Regions from separate parts of the Homo sapiens genome. Here region 2 is linked to region 1. The links come from fine-mapping of genetic effects on gene expression. A gene starts in region 1. The other region holds a variant in brackets. All regions are shown on one strand. Distances are from middle to middle. Region 1 holds the start of ACAA1 (acetyl-CoA acyltransferase 1). Region 2 overlaps DLEC1 (DLEC1 cilia and flagella associated protein).

The links. PIP is the estimated chance that this variant, and not a neighbour inherited with it, causes the effect.
Region 2: its variant is the best candidate, but not a certain one, in a credible set for the expression of ACAA1 in whole blood (INTERVAL, PIP 0.56).

The regions. Positions count from the first base shown.
Region 1 is chr3:38,135,718-38,138,621 of GRCh38, reverse strand. It overlaps ACAA1 (acetyl-CoA acyltransferase 1), which reads left to right and starts at 1,495. Exons shown (of 12, transcript NM_001607.4): 1 at 1,495-1,757; 2 at 1,937-2,030. The coding sequence starts at 1,587. RefSeq lists enhancers at 1-277, 1-380.
Region 2 is chr3:38,051,877-38,054,780 of GRCh38, reverse strand. All of the region lies in intron 2 of DLEC1 (DLEC1 cilia and flagella associated protein), which reads right to left. It also overlaps the pseudogene PPP2R2DP1. Among named protein-coding and RNA genes, the nearest start is that of DLEC1, 14 kb to the right of the region's middle. RefSeq lists an enhancer at 1,394-2,238. The variant G/C (reference allele first, on the strand shown) is at 1,218.

The DNA.
Region 1 (2,904 bases):
CGCCCCGCCGGCTTTCGCTTTCCGAGAAGCGCCGCCCTGCCCTACAATCTGGAGCCCCGAGCAAAAGTGCGGAGGCGGGGGTGCCCACCTCTACCCTTGAGGTCTCGAGGCGGGTGATGTGGGGGGCGTAAGAAGTAGGAATCTGCCTTTTGAGATCTGGAGAGGTCCACGGCACCGCCCTCGAGGGTCTGGTGATGGTGCTAGTAGGTTGGCGGCGGAGTGAGGACGACCCTCCTTCGGGGGTTGTAGGAAACGGGCCTTGCTTTTTGGGATCTGGTGGAGCCACAGTTCTTCCACGGAGGAATCTGAGGGGTTCATACGGTCCTGCCCTCGAGGATGGCGAGGAGGGGACAAGTGGGAAGGCACCAGCTCTGCCCTCCACTGTCTCTGGGGAACACGCAATCCTGCCAGTAGGGGTATGGGAAGACCCCTGCTGTGCTCCCCGAGGTGGGAGTGGGAAACGGACAGCTGCCTTCTGGAGCCTGAGGCATGCCGTGGCCCTGCCCTCGAAATGGTTGGGGACGTCATGACACTAGGTTGGGGAGCACAAGGCACCCTGTCCTTTGGTGTCTGTGGAAAGCCCAGCACTACTCTCCAGGGTCTCAGGTGAAGACATGGCCCTGCTATTGGGAGTCAAGGGGGCACGTGGCCTTGCCCTTTAGGTTTAGGGACACAGTCCTGACCTGGGGAGCCCTGGTTCATTCATTTACTCATTCGACAAGTACTTATTGATCATCTACTAAGTGTCAAGGGTGTCGCAGGCTCCCCGGATACATGGTACCTCTCTGCCTTGGTGGAGACCCCAGCCTAGCACGGGAAATGGGCACTAATAAAATCATTCCAATTGGGTGTAAAACTGGTAAAAGTGTGAAATGTTCATTCTCCAGTTAGAGAGCTTGTCACACCCCGCATGTCTGTAAAATCTGTTCTCCCGGCCAGCCCGGAAGCCCAAATTCCCTGTCTTCTCGAAAGAATGGGAAAGCCCAACCACGTCGGAGCAGGACTCGGGCGTCTCGGAAGTATTTAGGTCCCCCAGCTCGGGTACTGGGACCGGAGGGATAGCAGAGCCTCCTAGGAAGTGGGTAGAGGAATTAGAGCCTCGGCTTCCATCTCCAGCCCCCAAGCAGTAAGCGGTCCTGGCTGCCCAGCCTTCCGTTTGGCTGCGGGCAGGAGACAGGGATTTGGGGGTCAGGTCTCGGGTTTGGCTACAAAAGGTGGAAAGACTTCCGGTCTGCATTTCTGGGCGGGGATTCGTAAAGATACACCTTCTGGTTGGCTGCGGTAGGCCAAGGTAGGCGGGGCATTGAGTGGAAAGCTCGGCTGGGCGGTGCCTGTGGGCCCTCCTATAGAGGGCTTGGTAGGCGGTGGCGGGGAGGGGCGGGTTCCCAGGCCGACTCTCCTTGTGGTTGGCTGAGGCTGGAGGTGGACGGGACTTTTGGAGGGTCGCTCGCGTCTGTTCGCAGAGCTGTGGGCGGAGTTGAGGCCTTGGAGGCTGAGATGTGGTTCTGCGCGTGTGCGGACGGCTGTCTGTTAACTCCGCGGTCAGTTCCCGGACTGGTGGCTGGTCTGCAGGGTTGACCTGCGCAATGCAGAGGCTGCAGGTAGTGCTGGGCCACCTGAGGGGTCCGGCCGATTCCGGCTGGATGCCGCAGGCCGCGCCTTGCCTGAGCGGTGCCCCGCAGGCCTCGGCCGCGGACGTGGTGGTGGTGCACGGGCGGCGCACGGCCATCTGCCGGGCGGGCCGCGGCGGCTTCAAGGTGAGGCCCGAGGGTCTGGGCGCCGAGTGTGGGAAGACGCCGGCGCGGGCTGGGGTCCGGTTCGTATGTTTGGTTATCCTGGACGCCGGAGGCAGCTCCGCACCCAGCTGTGGTCGCTTTGTCTCCCTGGGGTGGGCATGGGGGAGTGGGGGTCACTGCGGCTGCTCTTTCTGCTGCAGGACACCACCCCCGACGAGCTTCTCTCGGCAGTCATGACCGCGGTTCTCAAGGACGTGAATCTGAGGCCGGAACAGCTGGGGGACATCTGTGTCGGTGAGCGAACCACTCAGGCCCTGCGCTGGGCCTTCCCCGTTCTTCCGTTCGTCCAGAGCTCTCCTCACCTCCCCGCCCCGAATTTTCACTGGGGGAACCTCCATGGCCTTGACCTTTGAAGGGGTCCTGCCCCTTCACACCTGTGGGTATTTCTCGTCAGATGGGAGGAGAGACTGAGAAAAGAAATAAGACGCAGAGACAAAGTGTAGAGTGGGCCCAGGTGACCGGCATCGGTCTCCGAGTTCCCTCAGTATTTATTGATTACTATTTTCACTATCTCGGCAAGGGGAGTGCGGCAGTGTGGGGGAAAGGAAGAGAGATCAGACTGTTACTGTGTCTGTGTAGAAAAGGAAGACAGAAGAAACTCCATTTTGATCTGTACTAAGAAAAATTTTTCTGCCTTGAGATGCTGTTAATCTGTAGCCTTAGCCCCAACCCTGTGCTCACAGAAACATGTGCTGTATTGAATCAAGGTTTGAGGGATTTAGGGCTGTGCAGGATGTGGCTTGTTAACCATTTGTTTGCAGGCAGTATGCTTGGTAAAAGTCATCGCCATTCTCCATTCTCGATTAACCAGGTACACAGTGCACTGCGAAAGGCCGCAGGGACCTCTGCCCAAGAAAGCCTGGGTATTGTCCAGGTTTCCCCCCACTGAGATTGTCTGAGATATGGCCTAGTGGGAAGGGAAAGACCTTACAGTCCCCCAGCCCGACACCCGTAAAGGGTCTGTGCTGAGGAGTATTAGTAAAAGAGGAAGGCCTCTTTGCAGACACCCGTAAAGGGTCGGTGCTGAGGAGTATTAGTAAAAGAGGAAGGCCTCTTTGCAGTTGAGATAAGAGGAAAGCATCTGTCTCCTGCTTGTCCCTGGGAATGG
Region 2 (2,904 bases), 84 kb after region 1:
GGGGAAATCCAGAGAGACCTGGGTGTGCTGGGAGCAGCCACCCACCATGCATGTTCTCACTAAGTTTGCAAAGAACACCATTCTTTTAACCTGGGCCACTTCTCAGGGCTGTGCTTACAGCAAGTGGTCTAGAGGAATGAGGTCATGTTTCTTCTAGTCAAAGTGCAGGTTTGTTGACTGTCCACTGAAAAAGCAGTGAGTTCTCCAACCTCAGCATGCATCGGCCATGACATCAGCCCCACTGCTTGCATAGCATCTGCCTGGGCCCCTTGTGTCACCCCCTGGGAAACCTGTGCCAGCAAGAGGCTCATGCTGCTTGCTGTGCTCCAAGGACCCAGGAACCTCATGTCTTCAGTCAACATCTGTGAAACACTGTAGGCTAGCAGATTAGTCTGTAAACAGAGTAGAAGTCAGACCCAGAAAAACGTCAGTGCCTCCAGGCGCCTGCACGCTGCCCTCATGGAGGCAGGAGAGCTCCTCAGTGTGAGCTTTTCCAGATCACGCAGCTGCCACCAACACAAACTTCAAACCCTTGTTTTTGTTTTTGTTTGTTTGTTTGTTTTTTTGTTTTGTTTTTTTTTTTAGTATTTATTGATCATTCTTGGGTGTTTCTCGGAGAGGGGGATTTGGCAGGGTCATAGGACAATAGTGGAGGGAAGGTCAGCAGATAAACAAGTGAACAAGGGTCTCTGGTTTTCCTAGGCAGAGGACCCTGCGGCCTTCCGCAGTGTTTGTGTCCCTGGGTACTTGAGATTAGGGAGTGGTGATGACTCTTAAGGAGCATGCTGCCTTCAAGCATCTGTTTAACAAAGCACATCTTGCACCGCCCTTAATCCATTTAACCCTGAGTGGAAACAGCACATGTTTCAGAGAGCACGGGGTTGGGGGTAAGGTTATAGATTAACACCATCCCAAGGCAGAAGAATTTTTCTTAGTACAGAACAAAATGGAGTCTCCTATGTCTACTTCTTTCTACACAGACACAGCAACAATCTGATTTCTCTATCTTTTCCCCACATTTCCCCCTTTTCCATTCAACAAAACCGCCATCGTCATCATGGCCCGTTCTCAATGAGCTGTTGGGTACACCTCCCAGACGGGGTGGCCGCTGGGCAGAGGGGCTCCTCACTTCCCAGAAGGGGCGGCCGGGCAGAGGCGCCCCCCACCTCCCGGATGGGGCGGCTGGCCGGGCGGGGGCTGCCCCCCACCTCCCGGAC[G/C]GGGCAGCTGCCGGGTGGAGACGCTCCTCACTTCCCAGACGGGGCGGCTGCCGGGCGGAGGGGCTCCTCACTTCTCAGACAGGGCGGCTGGGCAGAGATGCTCCTCACCTCCCAGACGGGGTCGCGGCCGGGCAGAGGCGCTCCTCACATCCCAGACGGAGCGGCGGGGCAGAGGCACTCCCCACATCTCAGACAATGGGCGGCCGGGCAGAGACGCTCCTCACTTCCTAGATGGGATGGCGGCCGGGAAGAGGCGCTCCTCACTTCCCAGACTGGGCGGCCGGGCAGAGGGGCTCCTCACATCCCAGACGATGGGCGGCCAGGCAGAGACGCTCCTCACTTCCCAGATGGGGTGGCCGCTGGGCAGAGGCTGCAATCTCGGCACTTTGGGAGGCCAAGGCAGGCGGCTGGGAGGTGGAGGTTGTAGCGAGCCGAGATCACGCCACTGCACTCCAGCCTGGGCAACATTGAGCACTGAGTGAACGAGACTCCGTCTACAATCCCGGCACCTCGAGAGGCCGAGGCTGGCAGATCACTCGCGGTTAGGAGCTGGAGACCAGCCCGGCCAACACAGCGAAACCCCGTCTCCACCAAAAAAATACGAAAACCAGTCAGGCGTGGCGGCGCGCCCCTGCAATCTCAGGCACTCGGCAGGCTGAGGCAGGAGAATCAGGCAGGGAGGTTGCAGTGAGCCGAGATGGCGGCAGTACAGTCCAGCCTCGGCTTTCACAACTTTGGTGGCATCAGAGGGAGACCAGTGAGAGGGAGAGGGGGAGGAGGAGGCGGAGGGGGAGGGAGAGAGAGGGACTTCAAACCCTTGTAATGGGAAGCTATGCTTACACATCTCAGGGGAGCTTTGGCCACCCCAATGCAAGATCTCAGATAAACTTCCCTCTGGACTCCAGTGGACGGAGACCTCATCATCTTTGAGGGCGCAGTTCCAACTCCACACCTCATGGTCCAAGGCTTCAGCTCTGCGCCACAACTTGCTGTTCACAGGAGGCAGCGGTTCCTGCTATTGGCTGATGCACCCAAGGCCAGCCAGGGGTGTGGGGCTTCTCTCGCAATAAACGTCTTTAGAGGCTACGGTTCTGGTTTCAGCTCCCTCTTCGTTTCTGGCTGTTGGGAGATTTCCCTTGCTTATTTGTGGTTCAACTATGCACCTATCCGAACCATTCCAGCAACATTCAAAGCTATCAAAGATGCAGTCATTCTCATAGAGAAAGCAGAGCTTGCTGTGCAGGTACTCGTGGTCCCGGTGTGGTCCCAGCCTGCTCTCTATGTTGAGGTCCCACACCTTCACCAACAGGGAGTCTCTGGTCATCAGGTACTGCCCACTATGGCTACATTTTACATTGGGTATGGATGAAATTATTTCTGAGAAGAAGGACCTACTGCTGGGATCTTGAGGCTCTTCAAAAAACTTGGAGTGTCTGTTGCACAGGGTCGAGGAGCCCATGCTGCTTAGTCAATGGTTCCTTTGCTACTACTGTAGACAAGCACATTGCACTGGTATGAGTGGAACTTGGCTGCCACAATGACTTCTGTCAGCTGCTCCAGGTTAGCAGGTTTGATGTCTACCACGTCAAAATGTCTATGTGTGATTTCTAAGTGTCATAAATTAATCCTCAGGTCATTGATAGTGCTGTAATTCTAAATGAATCTTGAAGTCATCCATCTTCATCAT